2 separate regions of the Homo sapiens genome follow, and region 1 is linked to region 2. The links come from fine-mapping of genetic effects on gene expression. A gene starts in region 2. The other region holds a variant in brackets. All regions are shown on one strand. Distances are between the middles of the regions.

Region 1 (12,437 bases), 66 kb before region 2:
AAACCCCATCTCTACTAAAAATACAAAAAGTATCCAGATGTGGTGTCGGGAGCCTATAATCCCAGCTACTCAGGAGGCTGAGGCAGGAGAATTGCTTGAACCCGGGAGGCGGAGGTTGTGGTGAGCCGAGATCGCGCCACTGCACTCCAGCCTGGGCAACAGAGTGAGACTCTGTCTCAAAATTAATAATAATAATAATAATAATAATAATAATAAACAAATAAAACAAAATGCACTAGGATACATGCTGAGATATACTTGAAGTGAGTCAAAGATTTAAATGTAAAACATGAAACCAAAGATTTAAATGTAAACTGTGTAAGTACAAACACACACATATACCTGAGAAAATTCCTTTCTAAACTTCAGGGGGTTGAGTTTTCTAACTAAAACTTAAAATCTACAATGCATAAAAGAAAAAATGAACAAAATTTACTACATGAAAATAGAAGCAAGACCTCTTCTCCACAAAAAAAATAAACAAAAAATTAACTGAGTGTGGTAGCGCCACCTTGCAGTCCCACCTACTCAAGCAGCTAAGGTGAACTAATTGCTGGAGCCCAGGAGTTCCAGGCCAGCCTAGGAAACATAGCAAAACTCTGTCTCTACCCAAAAATACAAGAATTAGCCAGGTGCGGTGACACGCACCTGCAGTCCCAGCTACTCAGGAGGCTAAGGAGGGAGGATCACTTGAGCCTGGGAGGTCAAGGCTGGGGTGAGCCATGATCGCACCACTGCACTCCACCCTGGGAAACAAAGTAAGACCTTGTCTCAAAAAATAAAAAAGAAACATTTAGAGACCAGGAATTGCCACAGCACTCTAGTCAACCAGTCTAGGCAACAGAACAAGACTCTGTCTATTGTCTCTAAAAAAAAAAAAAAAAATTGAGGCCAGACATGGTGGTTCACACCTGTAATCCCAGCAATTTGGCAGGCAGAGACAGAAGGATTGCTTGAGCCTAAGAGTTTGAGACCAGCCTGGGCAAAACAGTGAGATTTCATCTCTATAAAAAATTATGTAAAGGCCGAGCGCAGTGGCTTACTCCTGTGTAATCCCAGCAGATTGGGAAGCCAAGGCAGGTGGATCACCTGAGGTCAAGAGTTTGAGACCAGCCTGACCAACATGGGGAAACCCTGTCTCTGCTAAAAATACAAAAATTAGCCAGGTGTGGTGGCACAGGCTTGTAATCCCAGCTACTTGGGAGGCTGAGGCAGGAGAATCACTTGAACCCAGGAGACAGATATTACAGTGAGCCAGATCACACCTTTGTACTCCAGCCTGGGCAACAAGAACGAAACTGCTTCTCAAAAAAAAAAAAAAATTACATAAATTTAAAAATGTCTATATGGCATTATAAAACCCATAAAAGATAAATAAAAAGACAAATGACATATTAAGGAACAAAATTTGCAATTCATATAACAGACAAAAGTTTAATCTCTTTAATTTACAAAGAGCTCCTAAATGTCAATTTTTAAAAGACCAATAACACAAGATATGAAAGACAATTCATGGAGAAACACAAATTAAAAGTGTAGTATAGGCCGGGCACGGTGGCTCACCCCTGTAATCCCAGCACTTTGGGAGACCGAGGCAAGCAGATCACCTGAGGTCAGGAGTCTGAGACCAGCCTGACCAACATGGTGAAACCCCATCTCTAAAAGTACAAAAATTAGTGAGGCCTGGTGGCAGGTGCCTGTAATCCCAACTACTCAGGAGGCTGAGGCAGGAGAATCACTTGAACCTGGGAGACGGAGATTGCAGTGTGCCGAGATCGGGCCACTGCACTCCAACCTGGACAACAAGAGCGAGACTCAGTCTCAAAAAAAAAAAAAAAGAAAGAGAAAGAGAAAAAAAACGCGCAGTATACTCTCACGTCAATGTATTTTCTTGAGTCAGAGTTTCATTCTTGTTGCCCAGGCTGGAGGACAATGGCACGGTCTTGGCTCACTACAACCTCTGCCTCCCGGGTTCAAGCAATTCACCTGCCTCAACCTCCCACGTAACTGGGATTACGGGCACCCACCACCAAGACTGGCTAATTTCACATCAATATTTTGACCCATGAGATTGGTTTAAAAAAAAAGACAAATGTTTGACAACATACTCAGTTGGCAGGTTGGGGACACACACTTCTTCTGTGGGAGTGAAGACTGGTATAACCCAACTGGAGGGTGATTTGGCAATGTATATCAAAATGACAAATGAATTTACCCTATGACCCAGCAACCTTCACTGGCAATTTGAGCTACAAATATATCTACACCCATATGAAACAATGTACATACACAGTTATTGATTTTAGCATTATTTGTCATTGTAAACAATTGGAAACAATCACGTATTCATCTGCAGAGGATGGAGTAAATAAATGTTGGCATACCCAGATATTGGAATACTGAGCAACTGTAAGAGAAAATGCCCTAGGTACTAACAAAAGCAAGGAAAAATGTCCTAACTACTGTACTATAAAATAAAGATGTATAAAGTAAAAGACAAAAGCAAAATGCAGGACAATGTATATAATGTGCTATCTTTTGTGTATTAAAAAAAGATTGGGAGAAATAAAAATATAAATTCATATTCGCTGACATTTGCATAAATAAATTCTGAACAGACACTCAAAAAAACGGTAATAAAAGTGGTGCACTGAGAAGAGAGAATGGGGCAATTGGCAAGGATGGAAGAGAGACTGGGCAGTATGCCCTTTTTATACTGTTTTTGTTTGTTTGTTTGTTTGTTTTGAGATGGTGTTTCGCTCATCACCCACACTGGAGTGCAGTGGCTCACTGCAACCTCTGCCTCCCGGGTTCAAGCAATTTTCCTGCCTAAGCCTCTGGAGTAGCTGGCACTACTGGAGTGTGCCACCACGCCCGGCTAATTTTTTGTATTTTTAGTAGAGACGGGGTTTCACCATGTTGGCCAGGCTGCTCTCGAACTCCTGACCTCAGGTGATCCACCCTCCTTGGCCTCACAAAGTGCTGGGATTACAGGCATGAGCCACCGCGCCCAGCCCTGTTTTGATTTTTGAATATGAAATTTTAAATTTAACCCCCCAAAATTTAAAAATTGATCTTAAATTTGTATAAATAAAATCACTAAGGAACCCAACCTAAGTTTAGAAGCACACAGAATACAAAGGTGCTTCTTTCTCAGATAATTTTTGGAACAATAAACTGCTCTCTAATTGTTTTCCTAAAGAAACTTTTTCCAAGGAATCATGCTTCTCCACTTACATAAGAAATGATTCTTTTTTTTTTTTTTTTTTTTTGAGACAGAGTTTCACTCTTGTTGCCCAGGCTGGAGTGCAATGGTGCAACCTCTGCTTCCCAGGTTCAAGTGATTCTTGTGCCTCTGCCTCCTGAGTAGCTGGGATTATAGGCACCCACCACCATGCCCAGTTAATTTTTGTGTTTTTAATAGAGACAGGGTTTCGCCAGGTTGACCAGGCTGGTCTTGAACTCTTGACCTCAGGTGATCCACACGCCTCGGCCTCCCAAAGTGCTGGGATTACAGGCATAAGCCACTGCACTGGCCAGAAATGATTTTTTAAGTAGCATAAGATTGTTTAAATATGAAAATATAAAGGATATAAAAGCTATCAGAAGAGGAAAAGCTACAGAAGAAATGCCTCTAAAGCATATGAAGATAGCAGTGGCCAGAGCAGGAGGAAGAACCCTGGGAGACCAGACAGAGCTAACGTCTAATGTCTGACAGGAAGGTGTTAGTTATTTTTCAATAACTCTGGAAGAACAACAGAGAAACTACAGGATCAGGACAGAAAGGTTCTTTTCTATATGGTACTGTTTAATATTAACATTAACACACTCCCCAGAGATTATATTTTAATAGACTGTATCAAGAACTAGTTACAAAGTGGCATGCTGGTTTTGTTTGTAGACAAGATCTCCCTCTGTTGCCCAGGATGCAATGCAGTGGCATGATCACTCAGCCTTGAACCCGTGGCTCAAGTGATCCTCTAGCCTCAGCCTACAGAGTAGCTGGGACTACAGGTGTGCACCACCACATCTGGTTACTTTTTATTTTTTGTAGAGACAGGATCTCTCTCTGTAGTCCAGGCTGGTCTTGAACTCCTGGCCTCAAGAGATCCTCTCACCTCAGCCTCCCAAAGCACTGGGATTACAGGCGTGAGCCACTGCACTTGGCCTATATGCTTTGTTAAGAAAGACATTTACAGCCAGGTGCAGTGGCTCACGCCTGTAATCCCAACACTTTGGGAGGCTGAGGTGAGCCTTGCAGTCAGGAGTTTGAGACCAGTCTGTCCAACATGGTGAAACTCTGTCTCTACTTAAAAAAAAAAAAAAAAAAAAGAAAGAAAGAAAAGAAAAAAAAAACCAACGCAAAAATTAGCCAGGCGTGGTGGCGCACGCCTGTAATTCTGGCCAAGATCGCACCACTGCACTCCAGCCTGGGTGACGGAGTGAGACTCTGTCTCAAAATAAAACAAAAACAAAACAAAATTATTAAAAAAAAAAAAAAGAAGAAGACATTTACTAGTTAAAAATTTAAGGCCAGGCACGGTGGCTCACGCCTGTAATCCCAACACTTTGGGAGGCCAAGGCGGGCAGATCACAAGGTCAGGAGATTGAGACCATCCTCGTTAACATGGTGAAACCCCGTCTCTATCAAAAACACAAAAAATTAGCCAGCATGGTGGCGGGCACCTGTAGTCCCAGCTACTGGGGAGGCTGAGGCAGGAGAATGGCATGAACCCAGGAGGCAGAGCTTGCAGTGAGCCCAGATGGTGCCACTGCACTCCAGCCTGGGCGACAGAGTGAGACTCCATCACAAAAAAAAAAAAAAAAAAAAAAAAAAAAATTAAAAGTGGCCTATTTCAGAATCTCTGCAGTAAGATAACACACTTGATCAGTAAGGACCTGTGTGCATGGATCTTCAAAAATGAGTTTCTATCTATTAAGGACTTGTGATACATCACACCTTCAGTCATTGCCAAAAACATATTCAGCCACAAAATCACTTCAGCCCACCCCTACCTGATTCACGACACCACAGTGGTAATACAGCTGGACTCTGGGATCCTATCCCCAGAGAACAAAGC[C/G]ATAGAGCACTCTGCTACTCCCCCCAACTTCCATATTTAATCCTCCTCCAATAAATAAGATCAGCTCACCCTGCATTTGTGCTTCAGGAGCCTCTTTCCAGGTGACGCTTTCTTGTAATTTTTCCTGAATTTCTTCTAGGTCATGGAGAATATCTCTGATTTTCCCTGCAGCTGTGTCGGAAGTCACCAGCTTTGGAGAAGCCATGGAAAGATCCACCCCAGAAGAAAAAGCCTATTGATAAACCATTTAAAACTGAATAAATGGAAGTCCCCTATGCAGTCTATCAACTATTATATTCAAGTTTTTCTATTCATCTATAATTTTCTATTTAATTCCCAGCAAGTTTTTAAAAACAAAATTAGGCCCTCAAAAAATATGCCTTGAAAAAAATCTGGAATAATTTGCTGTACATAGTACAGCAAAAATATCAAAGAGTGGTTATTTCTGGGTGATGGAGTTATGGAGCACTTTAATTTGCTTTATTTAATGCTATGTGCTTTCTAATATTTTGCACAATAAACATGGATTTCTTAGGTAATACCAAAAAAGTTTAACATTTCTAGGCGCATCTTATAGGGGCTTTATAAAATAAATACTACAGATAGTTACTGAGATAAACCATGGAGGTCAGAATAACCTTTTCGGCTAGGTGTGGTGGCTCACACCTGTAATCCCAGCACTTTGGAAGGCTGAGGAGGGTAGAACACCTGAAGTCAGGAATCCGAGACCAGCCTGGCCAACATGGTGAAACCCTGTCTGTACTAAAAATACAAAAATTAGCCAGGCATGATGGCAAGTGCCTGTAATCCCAACTACATGGGAGGCTGAGGCAGGACAATCACTTGAACCCGGGAGGTAGAGGTTGTACTGAGCTGAGAAGATCATGCCACTGCACTACAACCTGGGCGACAGAGCAAGACTCCATTTCACAAAAAAAAAAAAAGGAACCTTTTCCCACCTCTATCATTATATCATTTCACTTCGCAAGAGCTCCCTCTCAAATTGCCTGCATCCAGGTCCTGCTTTCTAGGGCCTTCAACACATGCTCCCTGATTTTCTTTAGCCTCAGGTCCTGTTCTTCCCCAATACAGCCCTTTATCTGCTCACCAACTTCAACCCCTTTCCTTCCCACCTTTGCATAATCCACTCCCCATTCTTTCCACCAATCAAAATACGGTAGTATTACACTTATTGAGTGTTTTCTACATGCTAGATATTGCCTTTCTCTCATTTGCATAACAACCTCACAAAGTAGGTTTATCAACCTGTAAAAAATCTCCGTTTTACAAAAGAAGATGAAATTCATGAAGGTTAACTAAATTGCCACAGTTAATTATAACATCCCACATTTTAACATTGCTCAAGCACTTTCTTATACCTCTTTTAATCCTCACAATAAACCAATGATGTGGCAGGCCCTGTATCATTATTTCTATATTACAGATAGGAACCTGAGACGCAGATAGATGAAATGACTTGCCCAAGGTCATAATACTAGTGAGTGACAATGTCAATTCTGAAAGTCAGACTCTCAGCGTTTCTATCCCAACACATCGCATCCCTAAAGATGGATTTATCCATACATTCAGTGGGTATTTGTTGAACCCCTACTGTAAGTGGGTACTTGGGTACTGTGCTAGCGCCTGGGGACACAATGGTGGACAAAAGAACAAAAGCATCAGCCAGGCAATGTGGCGCACGCCTGTAATCCCAGCACTTTGGGAGGCCGAGGCAGGTGGATCACAAGGTCAGGAGTTTGAGGCCAGACTGGCCAGTATGGTGAAACCCCGTCTCTACTAAAAATACAAAAATTAGCCAGGAGTGGTGGCGGACACCTGTAGTCCCAGCTACTCGGCAGGCTGAGGCAGGAGAATCACTTGAACCTAGGAGGCGGAGGTTGCAATGAGCTGAGATCACGCCACTGCACTCCAGCAAGACTCTGTCTCAAAAAAAAAAAAAGCATCAAAAGTCCCTATCCTCCTGAAGTTGAGAGTCCAGTGAAGGAAAAGGGAGGGGGGCAGACATTAATATAGAGTATGGCACAAGACATTACAAAGGTGCAATGGTGATAACCACTACAAATGAAAGGTACATGGAGTCCTCAGAGCCTCTAATGGGGAGATTTGATTTGTTCAAGGAAATCATTGAAGGCTTCTTTCTGAAGAAATGACGTTCTAGCTAGGATCTGAAGGATGAGCAAGTATTACCTAAGTGATGGAGGGAAAGGAGAGCATTCCATGAAGGGTGCCCTGTAGTGGGAAGACGTGAGACACACTAGAGCGACTGTGCGGCCAGTGTAGCTAGAGCGCACAGAGCCAGGCAGCATGAGCAGAGATGAGATTTGAGAGGCAGACAGAGATGGGATCCTACAGGGCTTTGCTGGTCCTGTGAGGATTTGGGTCTTACTCCTGAGCAAACTGATGTAATTTGAATGTTTTAAGCAGATGAGTTACATTTTCAGATTGATGTTTGTGGTAGTCACTGTGATGACCATGAGGAAAACAGACTAGAAGAGGGAGAGTGGAGCATTTGGAAGACTATGACAGCAATCCAGACATGAAATTATCAGAGGCTTGGATTAGAGCAAGTCTCAAAGGAGCTCAAGAATAAGTAAATAGATTTGAGAGGTAATTAGGCAGGTCTTAAAGCTACAATATGCTGCATATTAGGGTAAGGGAGAAGAAGGTAACATGATTTCCAGGTCTCTGGCTTCTGTACTTGGAAAGATAATGGGGCAAGCATTGAGATGAGAAATCCCAGAAGAGGAGCAGTTTAGGACGCATTAAGTGTGATGCTTTGAGATACCCAAGAAGAAAAGATGAGAAGGAAGACATAGCAGCCTAGTGCTCAGAGAAGGCTCCAGCCTGGAGCTATTATTTGTGCATAGAGGTGGTCATTAAAGCCATGGATGCAGGGAAGACTACCTGCAGGGGAAACAAAGGGACCTACAACTCAGCCTTGAGGAACTCCAGCATTTAATTCCTAAGCAGAGGAGAGAGAGCCTGTAAACAGACTGAGAAGGATCAGCCAGAGAGAGGTGGGGGAAAGCCAAAAGATTCCTGTCCCAAAAGCTAAGAATGAAGGTGTGGTCCACAGTGTCAAAGGCTGCTGAAAGGTCAATGAAGACAGGCACCAGAACGCTTATAGAGACAGGCACCAGAACGTTATACACAGAGGTCACTGGTGATCTTAGAGACAGCTTGTTAGGTGGAGTGATCCTAGCCCATCTGAAGCTTCCCAACCTTACCTCAAGCATTCCAAATGTCCAATCATCCATGTCTGGTAGTAAAGAGAACAATAAAAGATTGAGACTTATTGTATCCTTCAGGTTCAAATATGTTCATGTTGTTCCAGTTGAAAGCAATCCCTAGCCCTATTCCCTTCCACATCCTTTCCTCTCCCAGTGGAGCCTACCTTGCCCAGGATGCTCAGTTCGTTGTCTGGTCCAGATTCTGATAGGGGCCTCTGATTCTGCAGGCTTCTGACAATGTCTACAAGATGTTCCACCAGCTCTGTCAGCTCCTGAGCAACTTCTGTGATGCTCTTCTCTACTGCCACCTTCAAAATAGCAAAGTTCAGGTCCTGGGTTCTATAAAACTGGACCCAGGAACCACCACTAGACAGAGGGAATCATAAATACTGTGGTAATGGCATAAAAACAGACATACAGACCGATGGAATACAATAGAGTACCCAGAAATAAACTCTCACATATATAGTTAAATGATTTTTGACGAAGGTGCCAAGACCATTCAATGGAGAAAGGACAGTTTTTTCAACAAATTGTACTGTGAAAACTGGATATCTATATGCAAAAGAATATGGCTGGACCCTTACCTAACATCATATACAAAAACTAACTCAAAATGGATCAAAGACCTAAATGTAAGACCTAAAATAATACAGCTGTTAGAAGAAAACATAGGGCAAAATTTATGACATTGGATTTGGCAATGATTTATTGTATATGTCACTAAAAGCACAGGCAACAAAAGAAAAAAGGAGACAAATTGGACTACATGAAATGTTTAAACATTTGTGCATCAAAAGACACGAACAATAGAGTAAAAAGGCAATCCACAAAAATGGAAGAAAATATTTGCAAGTCATACATCTGATAAGGCATTAATACTGAGAATATACAGAGAATTTCTAAAACTCAACAATAAAAACATATCACTGCCGCTTGTTTGGTTGGTAAAACAAACAAGCAAAAACCCACAAACAACTGAATTTTGAAATGGGCAAAGAACTTGAATAGCTATTTCTCCAAAGAAGATATACAAATCACCAATAAGCACATGAATAGACACTCAAGATCACTAATCACTAGGGAAATGCAAATCAAAACATACAGTGAGATACCACCTCACACTCATTAGGTTGGCTACTATCAAAAAAAAAAAAACCAAAATAACAAATGTTGATGGTGTGGGAAGATTGGAACCCTCTGCACTGTTGGTGGGAATGATATAGCCACTATGGAAGACAGAATGGTGGCTGCTCAAAATATTAAAAATAGGCCAGGCGCAATAGCTCATGGCTGTAATCCCAGCACTTTGGGAGGCCGAGGCGGGTGGATCACCTGAGGTCAAGAGTTCGAGATCATCCTGGCCAACCTGGTGAAACCCCATCTCTACTAAAAATACAAAAATTCACCAGGTGTGGTTGCAGGCACCTATAATCCCAGCTACTTGGGAGGCTGAAGCAAGAAAATCTCTTGAACCCAGGAGATGGAGGTTGCAGTGAGCCAAGATCATGCCACTGCATTCAAGCCTGGGCGACAGGGCCAGACTCCATCTCAAAAAAAAAAAAAAAAAATATATATATATATATATATATATATATATATATGTACATATATGTAATTAGAATTACCATATGATTTAGCAATTCCACTTCCGGATATATAAGAATTGAAAACAGGATCTCAAAGAGATTCATAAACTCATGCCCATAGCAGTATTATTCCCACTAGCTAAAACATGGAAGCAACCCAAGTATCTGCAGACAAATGAATGAATAAGCAAAAAGTGGCATATACATACAATAGAATACTACTCAGCCTTAAAAAGGAAGGGAACTCTGACACATGCTACAACATAAATAACCCTTGAAGACATTATGCTAAGTGAAATAAGCCAGTCACAAAAAGACAGATACTGTATGATTCAACTTATATGAGGTATTTAGAGTAGTCAAAATCAGAGACAGAAATTAGAATGATGGTTGCCAGAGGCTGGGGGAAGAGGAAATGGAGAATTTTAATGTCCTCCTAGAATTCCACTTTTGCGAGTTGAAAAGAGTTATGGTACCCTGAAGAACCAGTCATGTTAATTTAAAATTTTTTAAAGTTATGGAAATGATGGTAGTGATGGTTTCAAAACATTGTGAATGTATTTCATATCACCAAACTGTATACTTAAAAATGGTTTAGGGCCAGAGAGAAGTGGGGGAAAGCCAGAAGACTTAAGGGTGGAGAGGGCAGAGCAAGATAGCCAAATAGAAGGCTCCATTGATCATCCCTCCCACAAGAACACCAAATTTAACAACTACACAAAAAAGCACCTTCATAAGAACCAAAAATCAGGGGTACTTACAGTACCTGGTTTTAACTTTATATTACTGAAACAGGCACTGAAGAGGGTAGGAGAAACAGTCTTGAATTGCCAATGCAACCCATATCCCATGTGTCAGGGGCCACATGCACAGAGAATCTGTGCACTCAGGAAAGGGAGAGCATGGTGATAAAGAGAATAGAAAGACTTTGCCTTGTCGCTTCACAAAGCAAAACTGGGCTGAATTCAGCTGACGCCTACCCACAGAGGGAGCATTTAGATCAGTCCTAGCCAGAGAGGAATCAAATCACCCACCCCAGTTATTGGAACCTGAGTTCTGGCAAGCCTCTCCACTGTGGGCTGAAGTGCTCTGGGGCTCTAAATAAACTTGAAAGGCAGTCTAGGCCACAAGGACTGCAACTCCTAGGCAAGTCCTAGTGCTGAGATGGGTCTCTGGACCGGCCCCGAGCCTGGGTGAATGTGCCACCATGAAGGGAAGGACACAAGCCTGGCTGGCTTTGCCATCTGCTGATTATAGAGCCCTAGGTCCTTGAGTCAATATAGGTGGTAGCCAGATAGTGGTTAACAAGGGGCTTGGGTAAGGCACAGTGCTGTGTTGGCTTTAGGTCTGACCCTGTGCAGTTCTAGTGGTCATGGCCACAAGGTGCTTCTGTCACCCCACCTCCAGCTCCAGGCAGCTCAGCACACAGACAGACTGTTTTGGAGAACGTATGAGAAGAGAACAAGAATCTCTGCCTGGTAATCCAGATAATTCTTCTGGATCTTATACAAGACCACCAAGGTGGTACCTCTAGTAGTCTGCAAGAGTCACAGCTTTACTGGGCTTGGGGTGCCCCCTAATGCAGATACGGCTTAGATCACAACGCCCAAGTCCTTTCAAATTCCTGGAAAGCCTTCCCAAGAAGGACAGGTACAAACAAGCCCAGACTGTGAAGACTACAATAAATAACTAACTCTTCAATGCCCAGGCACTGACAAACATCCACGAGCATCAAGACCATTCAGGAAAACATGACCCCACCAAACTAACTAAATAAGTCACCAAGAGCCAATTCAGGAGAAACAGAAATATGTGACCTTTCAGACAGAGAATTCAAAATAGCTGATTTAAGAAAACTCGGAGACATTCAAGATAACAGAGAAGGAATTCAGAATTCTATCAGGTAAATTTAACAAAATGATTGAAATAATTAAAAATCGGTTAAGAGTCATCACCACGCTCTCCCTCTCCCTCTCCCTCTCCCTCCACGGTCTCCCTCTGATGCTGAGCCAAAGCTGGACGGTACTGCTGCCATCTCGGCTCACTGCAACCTCCCTGCCTGATTCTCCTGCCTCAGCCTGTCGAGTGCCTGCGATTGCAGGCGCGCGCCGCCACGCCTGACTGGTTTTCGTTTTTTTTTGGTGGAGACGGGGTTTCGCTGTGTTGGCCGGGCTGGTCTCCAGCTCCTAACCGCGAGTGATCCGCCAGCCTCGGCCTCCCGAGGTGCCGGGATTGCAGATGGAGTCTCGTTCACTCAGTGCTCAATGGTGCCCAGGCTGGAGTGCAGTGGCGTGATCTCGGCTCGCTACAACCACCTCCCAGCCGCCTGCCTTGGCCTCCCAAAGAGCCGAGATTGCAGCCTCTGCCCGGCCGCCACCCCGTCTGGGAAGTGAGGAGCTTCTCTGCTTGGCCACCCATCGTCTGGGATATGAGGAGCCCCTCTGCCTGGCTGCCCAGTCTGGAAAGTGAGGAGCGTCTCTGCCCGGCCGCCATCCCATCTAGGAAGCGAGGAGCGC
Region 2 (12,437 bases):
CTCCCGGGTTCACACCCTTCTCCTGCCTCAGCCTTCCAAGTAGCTGGGACTCCAGTGCCCGCCACCACGCCCGGCTAAATTTTTTTTGTATTTTTAGTAGAGACAGGCTTTCACCGTGTTAGCCAGAATGGTCTCGATCCCCTGACCTCGTGATCTGCCCGCTTCGGCTTCCCAAAGTGCTGGGATTACAGGCCTGAGCCACCGTGCCTGGCCAGCTCTAGACATATTTCTCTAAAGGAAGTAGCTGAAACACACTTGGTCTAGTAAGATACTAGTGTTTACCCCCTCTTATCAAGTTAGCCACCATCTGTAAGCTACAAGAATGTCACAGGCAGAGATCATAGAGAAAAATCATAGAGATCATACAGAAAAATCCTCCATTTAAGAGCTGTGGAAACTGAGGCCCAGAGAAAGGAAGAGACACGCCCAAGCAACAGAGGCAGAAAGAGGCTTATACCAGTCTTCCCATGTGCTCTCTGTGATGGTATCCAGTGCTTTCCTGGATCCACCTGCGCACCAGGCCCATAGAAGAGACCACCACAGATGAAGACACCAAAGATGGAGAGGGGGAGGAGGTGGAACCAGGACAGACCCCTCACCCAGTCCCTAAGGAATCACCCACTCACAGGCAGTCGTTGGCCTGGGGGATGTAGTAGAAAGCTGGGACTCTGGCTTCGAACTTGGCCTTCACACGGAGGTTTCCATTGTGGATCATAAACTGCAAGACAACAGCAACCTGAGGTAATATTAGAACTTGAAAAAACGTGAAATGAAACTATGAGGCCACTGACTTAGGCTGAGTCAGAAGAAACTGCCTCCAAGAAGGAGATGTCCCACCGGGCTTGGTCATCCATACTGCTGGGAAGCCCCAGCCTGTAACAATCATGGGCAGATATAACCATGCCTCATATGGGCACAGGACTCCACAGTGCTCACACATCAGCTCACTGGGTCCTCTCAGCCATTTTCATATCACTGTACTCATTTTACAGATGAGTCAACTGAGGCTCAGACGGGTTAGGTTACTTGTTCAAGGAAACACAGCTATAAGTGGAGAACTGGGATTTGAACCCAGACCTGACTCCAAAGCTCATATTCTTCCTATCATGCCTTCCACAGATGGCCAGGACCCCTAGCAGCCCTGAAAGTCTGCAGGAGATAAATGTACCTGGAGGATGGAAGAAGTGGGTGCTCGCCTCATGGAGTGCATAGGTCAGGATGATTAGTAGGGCCCTTTGGCACCCAAGAGACCCAGAGGCTGATGCACCAAAAGTGGCCCTGGCAGCAGTGGCATAGCTAGGGTGAGGGCAGAAGTGGGAAGAAACACCAGGTTTTCAATTCACATCGCTTGGGCATCTCCTTTGCAGGAGAGGAGCATTGCTCCTCTTCTCCTCTGCAGGGGCCGCTAGGCTGTGTCGCCAGCTTTGGATCCCAACAGAGCAGGATTCAGATCCTGACTGCCATTTATTTGATGAGTGACCCTTGGAATCTCACCCGTAAAAATGAAGAAAATGGCCAGGCACAGTGGCTCACACCTGTAATCCCAGCACTGTGGGAGGCCAAGGCTGGGGATCACTTGAGGTCAGCAGTTTGAGACCAGCCTGACCAACATGGTGAAACCTTGTCTCTACTAAAAAAATACAAAAATTAGCCAGGACACAGAAAGGTGAGGCAGGATAATTGCTTGAACCCGGGAGGCAGAGGTTGCAGTGAGCCGAGATTTTGCCACTGCCCTCAAGCCTAGGCAATAGAGCAAGACTCTCTCTCAAATAAATAAATAAATTAGCCAGGTATGGTGGTGCACGCCTGTAATCCTAGCTACTCAGGAGGCTGAGGCACAAGAATTGCTTGAACCCAGGAGGAGGAGGTTGCAGTGAGCCAAGATCACACCACTACACTCCAACCTGGGCAACAGAGTGAGTGAGACTCCGTCTCAAAAAAAAAAAAGAAAGAAAGAAAAGAAAAGAAAAGAAAAGAGAAGAAGAAGAAGAAGAAGGAAGAAGGAAGAAGAAGAAGAGGAGGAGGAGGAAGAAGAAGAAGGAAATATAACAGAGGATTGGGCGCTGTAGCTCACACCTGTAATCCCAGCACTTTGGGAGGCTAAGGCAGGTGGATCACCTCAGGTCAGGTGTTCAAGACCAGCCTGGCCAACATGGCGAAACCCCATCTCTACTAAAAATACAAAAAATTAGCCGGGCATGGTGGCGGGCGCCTGTAATCCCAGCTACTCAGGAGACTGAGGCAGGAGAATCGCTTGAATCCAGGAGGTGGAGGTTGCAGTGAGCCGAGATCGTGCCACTCACTGCACTCCAGGCTGGGTGACAGAGTGAGACTGCATCTCAAAAAAAAAAAAAAAAAAAATGCTGGGCACGGTGGCTCACGCCTGTAATCCCAGCACTTTGGGAGGCCGAGGCGGGTGGATCACCTAAGGTCAGGAGTTTGAGACCAGCCTGACCAACAGGGTGAAACCCTGTCTCTAGTAAAAATTCTACTAAAAATACAAAATTAGCCGAGCATGGTGGTGCATGCCTGTAATCCTAGTTACTCAGAAGGCTGAGGCACAAGAATCGCTTGAACCCCAGAGGCAGAGGTTGCAGTGAGCCAAGATCGCATCATTGCACTCCAGCCTGGGCAACAAGAGTGAAACTCCGTCTCAAAAAAAAAAAAAACAAAAAAAACAAAAAAGAAAATATAACATGGGAGTTATAAGGTGCAAATAAAATCCTTCAGGTTTATGTGCTGGTTTACTGGTTTCCAGCCTTTCTCCCACACTAGAATGTAAGCTCTGTATGGCCAGGGACCTTATCTTGTTCATTGTTCTCTCCCAAGACCCAGCACTTAGTAAGGTCACACTAAAGCCTCCAGTCCGGTGCTGTCTAGCACAGTACCTGGCACAGAGTAGGCATTCAGTAAATGTCAGCCTGCTTCCCCAATAGTCCTGGAAACCCTCAGCCAACCCGCACAGTGCAGAACTGCCTGCTCTCTGGAGGTTTTCTGACCAAAATGGAATTACCATGCAGGCTGAGGGTATCCTCCACCCCCAGAGGGCAGGAGAGCAAAGTGGTCCTCTTTCTGCCTAGGGGGAAAGGAGGACTTTAGACCACAAATCAGGTTATTTCCCTTCCCCCAGTCCAAGACTTCACTAATGATAACAGCAACTTTTTTTTTTTTTTTGAGGTAGGGTCTCACTCTCACCCTGGCTGGAGTGCAGTGGTGCGATCTCAGCTCATTGCAGCCACACTCTCACAGGCTCAGGTGATCTTCCCACCCCAGCCCCCGAAGTATCTGGGACGACAGGCGCATGCCATCACACCCAGCTAATTTTTGTATTTTTTGTAAAGACGGGGTTTCACCATGTTGCCCAGGCTGCTCTTGAACTTCTGGGCTCAAGCAATCCACCAGCCTCAGCCCCCCAAAGTGCTGGGATTATAGGTGTGAGCCACCACACCCGTACAACAGCAACTGTTAACTGACAGCTTTCTTTGTGTCTGGACTGAGCCTACAATCATCTTCACAACAGTGCTGTGACATTGGTGGTAGTGGCCAGGCACAGTGGCCCACGCCTGTAATCCCAGCACTTTGGGAGGCCGAGGAGGGTGGATTACCCAAGGTCAGGAGTTCGAGACCAGACTGACCAACATGGCAAAACCCCGTCTCTGCTAAAAATTAATACAAAAATTAGCGGGGCATGGTGGTGGGTGCCTGTAATCCCAGCTACTCAGGAGGCTGAGGCAGGAGAATTGCTTGAACCCAAGAGGCAGAGGTTGCAGTGAGCCGAGATTGGCCGTTGCACTCCAGCCTGGGCGACAAGAGTGAAACTCCGTCTCAAAAAAAAAAAAAAAAAAAAAAAAGGAAGAAAGAAAAAAAGAGAAATGGTGGTGGTATCCCTTGAATACAGATGTGGAAACTGAGGGTCCACAGCTAGGTCAAAGTACCTAGCTCAGGGCCTCCCAGCTTATAGGTAAGCAAATGATGGCCAGGAGCGGTTCAGGATGGTTCAGGCCTGTAATCCCAGCACTTTGGGAGGCTGAGGTGGTGGATCGCCTGAGGTCAGGAGTTCGAGACCAGCGTGACCAACATGGTGAAACCCCGTCTCTACTAAGTACAAAAAAATTAGCCGGGTGTGGTGGCAGGCGCCTGTAATCCCAGCTGCTTGAGAAGCTGAGGCAGGAGAATTACTTGAACCCGGGAGGCAGCGGTTGCAGTGAGCCAAGATTGCTCCACTGCACTCCAGCCTGGACAACACAGCGAGACTCCGTCTCAAAAAAAAAAAAAAAAAAGTAAGCAAATGATAGAGCCAGAATTTGAACTCTCGGCCTCTGTCTAAGCTGCCATCTTATAAGCTGTGTTTCCTCTAGCTAGACTTGCCCCTCTCTGGTTCTCAGTTTCCCCCTCTGTAGAATGGGAGCCCCCTGCCCGCTGCCTCTACTCCAGTCCCGCAGTTCCATGGCTCTCCACGGGCATGCCTTTCTACCTCCACAATACTGTCGTCCCAGAAGTCAAGTCGCACAGATTTAACTCTGCTGATGTCAGGGAAGTTACGGTGGACGCCGCAGCAGTTGAGACAGATGAAGATCCCCAGCTTGTAAGAGGCCCAGTCGGGATCTGCAGGGGATGAGGCAGGAGAGGAGCTGAGCGGAAAGCGCGGTGAAGAAACCAGGGCTGGGCTCGGGGCACTGGGGCAGGTGGGGCGCCCCTTCTCCCACCTAAGGCGAACTAAGCGGCCAGCCTGGCACCTTCTGGTTAGCCCACCGGCCGCTGCGCGGCGACCGGGGTGAAGATCCTGGAGGCAGTTCAGGGCCCGGGGAGAGAGTCTGAGGCTGCGCGACGTGGAAGTGAAGGGACTCAGAAGGAACCGAGAGGAGGGCGCGGGGGGCGCACCGCGGGGCTCGGCGCGGAGCTGCAGGTGGGGAGGCTGAGTTAGGGGGCCCTCGGCGTCCCCGAGGTGGGGCGCTGGGGAGGCCTTCGGGGGGCGTCTGGGAGCGGGCAGGGGGCACAGGACTGTCGGCGGCCTGGGCCCGACGTTTAGCCCTGGCTGGGATGTCTGAGTCCGAGGGCGTGGGGCGCGCCTGGGTGCGCAGACATCGAGAGCCCGGACTCGGGCGGTCGGGTGCCTGGCCAGGGAAGAGAGCGGGACTGGAAGGGCTCTAGGCTGCCGGCTCTCGTGTCCGGGTCCAAGCACGTGGGAAGATGCGCATCTGGTCCCGCGAGGGGAGCAGAGCCTGGGCTCGTAGGGGCCGGGGCAGGGTGTGGTGGAGACGGCCCTCGGGGCTCGGGTGAGAGGTTCACGGTGTGGGTGGGAGGGGTCGGGGCCCGCAGGTGCCACGTCTGGGTCCAGGGGGCCGAGGGCGGGACCCGGTGGGGCCGAGGGGAGGAGTCGGGTGGGCCTGGGGTCCGGCCGGGGGTCTCGCGCTGCCCGCGCCGCCGCGCCCTTACCTGCCGCCCCGCAGTCGGCGCAGTGCGCGTTGCCTGTGTCCGGCGCCCGCAGCAGCTCCAGCAGCCGCTTCTTGTTGCGCTCGCGATCGCCCATGGCCGGCCCGGCGGGCTCAGCGGGGCTCAGCCCATGGCCCGTGCGCTCCGCCCGGCAGGTGGAGAGGGACCCGGCCGCGGCGCCTCAGCCAGGCCTGGGCAGCCGCCAGCCCCGCCCCGCACCGTCAGGACTGTCCGCCCCTCCCTCGGCAGGTCCAGTCCGGCCCCGAGCTCCGCCGACGCGCGGGGAGGGACAGGAGCACGCAAATTGGAGTTTAACACACTGGCCTGAGATCAAATCGTGGCCTGTCACTTGGTAGCTACGAGACTGTGGACAACCTATTCAACCTCTGTGGGTCTCAGTTTCCGCGTCTATGAAAGAGGAACAAGGGCATATGTCTGCATCTCAGCGCTTCTTGGAAAATTAACCAGAATCTAACTTCTGTTAAAGCGTTCTGTTAATGTAAGATCTTACATCTATTTGGAGACGTATTTATATGCAAATGCCACCTCCTCAGGAAGCCCTCTGTGATACCCTGCCTGGAGTAATCTTTCCAGCCTCTGGGTCTCCAAGAATACTCTTGTAGTATCTGTCTATTTGTTTTGGACCTGAGCACTTTCTATCTACCTTGCATCACGGTTATTTATATACTTGTGTTAATTCCACTCTCTGACCGCAGACACATACACATGTCCACACCAGGGAGTTTGACGTCAGCAGTTTTATGTCTGTATTCCATATTGCTCCTATAAATGATACCTGCACATTTTTAGAAGTCCAACTAATAGTTGCATGATTTTGTTCACCAGAAAAGTGTGGTTTCACCAAGGTGGACACAGCCAGGCACTTTAACCTGTGAAGTTCCATCACCGCGAGGTGAAGGCAGGGTATAGGTGGTCTTAAATGTGGGCATTTCATTTCCTCTTTCCCTCTCTCCCATCTTTGTTACTGCTTGACATCATCTTCGTTACTCCTTGACATCATCTGCAATGACTCATGGGCCTCCTGGTGAAATATATACTGTACATACTTGCCATCTTCTATGTAGGTTAATACCTTAATGCACACAGATGCATTAAGCCATATGCATATGATAGACAGGTGTTAACCTTCAGGATAAAATCAGGTTTCCATCCTGGTGAATTGCAGCTGATGTTCTAGCTGACCTGCCCACACTCCCATTCAACATACATGCGGGCGCAAGCACACACGTGCACACACACGCACAGCAATATGGTGTAATGGAATGAATTCAGGAATCCAGAAATTCAGGCTTTAAATGTTGACTCCTTCATTTCCACATTTCCCAACTGTTTGTCTCTGGGCAAGTTCCTTCACTTCTCTGAGCCTCCAAACCCTCAACTGTTAAATGGAGAGCGTAAGATCCACTAATAGGGTCATTGAAATGGCACAAAGAAACCCTCCAAACATGGTGGCCTCCTTGCTTCCCCTGCCCCTATGGTCAGCTTGTGGAATTGTCGCTTGGAATGCTGTGTGTGATTCCCGTCATCCCTGGGGTGGAGGAGGTCAAGCTGCCAGGACTGAGCAGGAAGGGAGGGTGGAGAGTATTACCAAGAATAGCCAGCCATGAGGGGGTCTTGCCTGTGAGGGGGTGAGGCCTAGCCCAGGAGCAGCCACAGAGGAACCAGTGAGAGAGTCAGCTGGGGTCAGGGGGCATGGGGCTGTTTATTAAACCGGCTGAAAGATGATTCATTTCCGTTGCTTTAGATGAAAAAAGGGACAGAAATAAATCTCCCAGGAGAAAGATGGGAAAGTCAACTTAAGGTATGAAGGCAAAGGAAAGAGGGAGAGAGGGAGAAGAGGAGACAAGCTAAGGACATTTCTCCTCTGCCCAACACTGGGACAAAATTGTGATGCTGGGGGTGCTTCCTCGGCACCCGAGCCTTCACCAGTCTGTGCTCCTTTGCTTCTCTGACACCTTAGGTCTCACTGCCACCTCCCTGTAGGTCCCACAAAAGCCAACCCAGTTCTAAGTAGGCTCTGGTTGAATCTCAGAAACTTTAAAAAAAGCCGGGCGCAGTGGCTCACGCCTGTAATCCCAGCACTTTGGGAGGCCGAGGGGGGCGGATCACGAGGTCAGGAGATCGAGACCATCCTGGATAACACGGTGAAACCCCGTCTCTACTAAAAATACAAAAAAATGGCTGGGTGTGGTGGTGGGCGCCTGTAGTCCCAGTTACTTGGGAGGCTGAGGCAGGAGAATGGCATGAACCCAGGAGGCGGAGTTTGCAGTAAGCCGAGATCGCACCACTGCACTCCAGCCTGGGCGACAGAGTGAGACTCTGTCTCAAAAAAAAAAAAAAAAAATTAAAAAAAAAAAGAAAAAGAAAAAGAAAAAAAATAGCCAATCCAAGAGAACATACAGTATCTCATTCATAGTGAGGAGCCAGAGATTGAGAGATTCCTTTAGTTTCCCCTCTTCCCTTCCTTATTTCTGGAGGTTCCCATCAAACAGCCTTAATGTGGCATTTCAGGCATCCTCAGAGCAAAACAATGTACTCTGGTATTTTGTTTATAATGCTTTCTTTTCTTTTCCCTTCTTTTTTCTTTTCTTTGTTTCTTTCTTTTTTTTTTTTTTTTTTTTTTTTTGGTGGTGGTGGTTGTAGGACAATGCTAATGAACAATTACTGAGTGTTTTTTTTACAAGAGCGTCACACATTTGATCATATTTTAGCTTCATGACACCCTCAGAGGGCAGCATCACATCAGGCCACTTTACAGAAGAGAAAGCTGAGCCTCAGAGGATTTAAGTTACCCAAGGTCATGGAGCCAAATAAGAAGCGGAACAGGGCCTAAATCCAGATCTCCTACTGTGGCTCAGTCAGTCCCAGGTGATTTCATGAAACCTCCCTTTAGTGCATTCTGGACTTTTTTTTTTCTTTTTTTACTTAAATTGTGGTTCGGTTAATAAGGTTGCTCCAAAAAAAAAACAAAAAAAAAAAAAAAAAAGAAAAATATATATAAATTAAAAAATTGTGATAAAATCTAAACACAAAATTTGCCATTTTAACCATTTTTTTCTTTAGAGACAAGGGGGTCACTTTGTCACTCAGGCTTGAGTGCAGTGGTACAATCAGAGCTCACTGCAGCCTTGAATGCCTGGGCTCAAGTGATCCTCCTGCTTCAGCCTCCTGAGTAGCTGGGACTATGGGAACGTACTACCAAACCTGGCTAATTTTTTTATTTTTCTATTTTCACAGAGACAGAGGCTTGCTTTGTTGCCCAAGCTGGACTCCAACTTCTGGCTTCAAACAATCCTCCAGCCTCAGTCTCCCAAAGCTTTGTGATTACAGGCATGAGCCACCATGCCCCACCCATCTTAATCATTTCTAAGTGTACAATACTATGTCATCGATTGCATTCAATTATATTCACAATGTTGTGCAATTATCCCCACTATTTTAACAAATATTTAATTGACAAAGAAAGATTGTATATATTCAATGTGTACATGATTTGACATATGTGCACATTGTGTAATGATTCCCACAATCGCATTAATGAACACATCCATCCCCATCCATACTGCACCTTAGATCCCCAGAATTCTTCTTATAATTGAAAGTCTGTACCCTATATTTCCTCCACTATTTATTTCCAAAACTTTTGCATCAACCTAAACAGAAACTGTAGCCCCGGTCTGGGCAACACGGTGAAACCCTGTCTCTACAAAAATTACCAAAATTAGCTGGCTATGGTGGCACATGCCTGTAGTCCCAGCTACTCAGTAGGCTGAGGTGGAACGATCGCTTGGGTCCAGCAGGCAGCGGTTGCAGTGAGCCACAATCACGCCACTGCCCTCCAGCCTGGGCAACAAAGCAAGACTCTGTCTCAAAAATAAAACAAAACTCTGTAGCCCACTCCTGGATACTGGACATTATGAAAATTGAGCTCAGCTTCTGTGCTCAGGACCCAGAAGCTACTTCTAAGTGAAGAGGACCATGCCAAAGGCTGTCATGACCAAGGTGGACACTGAGCACTGTGACCCAGAGTTTGAGGGACAGGATGGGTCAAAGCAGCCTCTCTAAAGGGCTCAGTCAATACAGCAGATGCTGGAGTGAGGGAGCAATTTGGGCTGTGGGACAGAATGTCCTTTGTAAATAAAGCTCCCAGGGTCCCACCAAGAAGAAACATCTAGCCCTGTTCTCAGGTCACTGTGTTTGTCCAGCCAAGCCAAGCTGCAGCAGGGCTGGAAGAAAGCCCTCAACCACATTCCCAGTAACAGCCTCAAGGTCCCCACTCAAGATCTTCAGGGCATAGAACACAATTCCTTTGAAAATTAAATAATTGGCTGGGCACAGTGGTTCACACCTGTAATCCCAGCACTTTGGGAAGCCGAGGCGGGCAGATCACCTGAGGTTAGGAGTTCAATACCAGCATGGCCAACATGGTGAAACCCCGTCTCTACTAAAAATACAAATATCAGCTAGGCGTGGTGGTGGGTGCCTGTAATCCCAGCTACTCGGGAGGCTGAGGCAGGAGAATTGCTTGAACCCAGGAGCTGGAGGTGGCAGTGAACCAAGATTGTGCCACTGCACTCCAGCCTAGGTGACAGGATGAGACTCCATCTCAAAAAACAAAAACAAACAAAAAAATTAAATAATTATGTTTATTAGCTTTAGAATTAAAAAAAGCTATATTACAGGAAATTTGAAAAATACAGTAACTAAAGAAAAAACCACCACCCACAATTATGGCCACCATTTATTCTGGGATTGCAGTGCACCAGACCCCTTACATGCATTATTCCATTTAATCTTAGCCATAACCCTGAGGTACAGACTATGTTTATGCCCATTTTACAGATGAGACTACTGTGGCTCAGAGAGAGGGTAAGTACATTTGTCCAAGGTTACACAACTGAGATGTTGTATACTGAATCATGCATACTGAAGCTGGGATTTGAATTCAAGTCTGCCTTGGACTCTTTTCACCAATATATTAGGTTGAACCACATGAAACTGACTTACAAAAATGGCAATAGCAATGCCATAAAGTTCAACCTAACATTATGCTTCTTTTTTTTTTTTTTGAGACAGCCTCTGTCCGTCTCGCAGGCTGGAGTGCAGTGGTACGATCTTGGTTCACCGCAGCCTCTGCCTCCTAGGTTCAAGCAATTCTTGTTCCTCAGCCTCCCAAGTAGCTGGGATTATAGGCATGTGCCACCACGCCCAGCTAATTTTTGTATTTTTAGTAGAGATGAGGTTTTACCATGTTGGTCAGGCTGGTCTCGAATTCCTGGCCTCAAGTGGTCTGCCTGCCTCAGCCTCCCAAAGTGCTGGGATTACAGGCATAAGTTTGAGGCAGGCAGATCACCTGAGGCCAGGAGTTTGAGATCAGCCTGGCCAACATGGCGAACCCTGGTCTCCACTAAAAAAAAAAAAAATACAAAGAAAATTAGCTGGGCATGGTGGCGTGTGCCTGTAATCCCAGCTACTCGGGAGGCTGAGGCAGGAGAATCGCTTGAACCCAGGAGACAGAGGTTGCAGTGAGCCGAGATCACACCACTGCACTCCAGCCTGGGCAACAGAGTGAGACTTTGTCTCAAAAAACAAAACAGACTAAAACAAAAAACTGTATTTTCAAGCATTATATTCTACTACTCTACTGTAATTGCTTGCTGGTTTACTGGTCTGTCACACTTCTATGCTTCATGAGGACAGGGTCAGTTGTGTTCTCTGTTGTATCCCTAGCACCTGCATGCCACATAGCAGGGTTTCAACAAATGTTTGCTAAATAAACAAAGAAATGAGGATCGGTAAAAAATAATAATCAATAAAGTGAGAGGACTTGGGATCACAAAGTGTTTTCCTTTTTGAAGGAAACAAATAATTCCTTTTGAAGGCAAGTGAAACAGCTGATAAGGAGCCATGCAGAGTAAATAATGTGATTGAGTTGACCAACATATTTGTGTGTTTAATATCACCTTGTCTTCAGCAACTGGAACCACTCAGATCTCAAAGGGACTCCCCACTGCAGTACTGCCTCAGGGTTTGCTCATTCGTTCATTATTTATGGGGCACCTACTATGTGCCAGATACTGTTATGGGTACTGAGATATGGCCACATAGCTGGGGAAATAGCTGCCTTTGTGGAGCTTACCTTCAAGTTAGGGAGACAGGAAATGAACAGAGAAACAAATATACAATATAGTGCAAGAGTGATACGTGCTATAAAGAAAAAGAAACAAGTGAGGGGATAGAGAGGAATGAAAGTTGCTATTTCAATAGAGAGGTCAAGGAAGTCCTCTCTGAGCAGGTAACATTTAAGCTCAGATCTAACATTTAAGATCTGCAGGAAGGGGTCAAGCCAACCAGCAGCAATTTGAGAGAGGAGTGTCCTAGGGGAAGAGAACAACCTGGGCAAAGGCCCTGGGATGTGCTTGGTGTGTGATCTGTCCACATCCTTTGAACACAGAGCTATCCAACTCCATGCCATTGTATCTCGCTCATGCTGCCCCTTCTCCTACCCCAGCTCTCTCCTCTACAACATCATCCAGCCCAGCCTCCATTGGTTGGTGGAGCAAACTCCTGCCTCCATGCCTAAATTCAAGTCTTACTTTTGACCAGGTGCAGTGGCTCACGCCTGTAATCCCAACACTTTGGGAGGCCGAAGTGGGCTGATCACCTGAGGTCAGAAATTCGAGACCAGCCTGGCCAACATTGCAAGACCCTGTCTCTACCAAGAATAGAAAAATTAGCTGGGCATGGTGGCATGTGTCTGTAGTCCCAGCTACTTGGGAGGTTGAGGCATGAGAATCGCTTGAACATGGGAGGTGGATGTTGCAGTGGGCTGAGATTACTTCACTGCACTCCAGTCCGGGAGACAAAGCGAGACTCCTCAAAGAAATCTGACTTCTTCCAGCTCACCCTCATCCCCCTGAACTATGTTCCCAAAATGTTCATATTTCCATTACAATAGTCATCACGTTGGACTATGGTTGTTT

What was found. PIP is the estimated chance that this variant, and not a neighbour inherited with it, causes the effect.
Region 1: its variant is the best candidate, but not a certain one, in a credible set for the expression of ADAP2 in whole blood (TOPMed, PIP 0.56).

What each region holds. Positions count from the first base shown.
Region 1 is chr17:30,980,820-30,993,256 of GRCh38, reverse strand. It overlaps RNF135 (ring finger protein 135), which reads right to left. Exons shown (of 5, transcript NM_032322.4): 2 at 8,497-8,640; 3 at 5,151-5,313. Among named protein-coding and RNA genes, the nearest start is that of RNF135, 16 kb to the right of the region's middle. The variant C/G (reference allele first, on the strand shown) is at 5,082.
Region 2 is chr17:30,915,108-30,927,544 of GRCh38, reverse strand. ADAP2 (ArfGAP with dual PH domains 2) reads right to left here and starts at 5,600. Exons shown (of 11, transcript NM_018404.3): 1 at 5,437-5,600; 2 at 4,475-4,605; 3 at 627-718. The coding sequence starts at 5,530. RefSeq lists silencers at 4,910-5,069, 5,230-5,279, 5,420-5,859.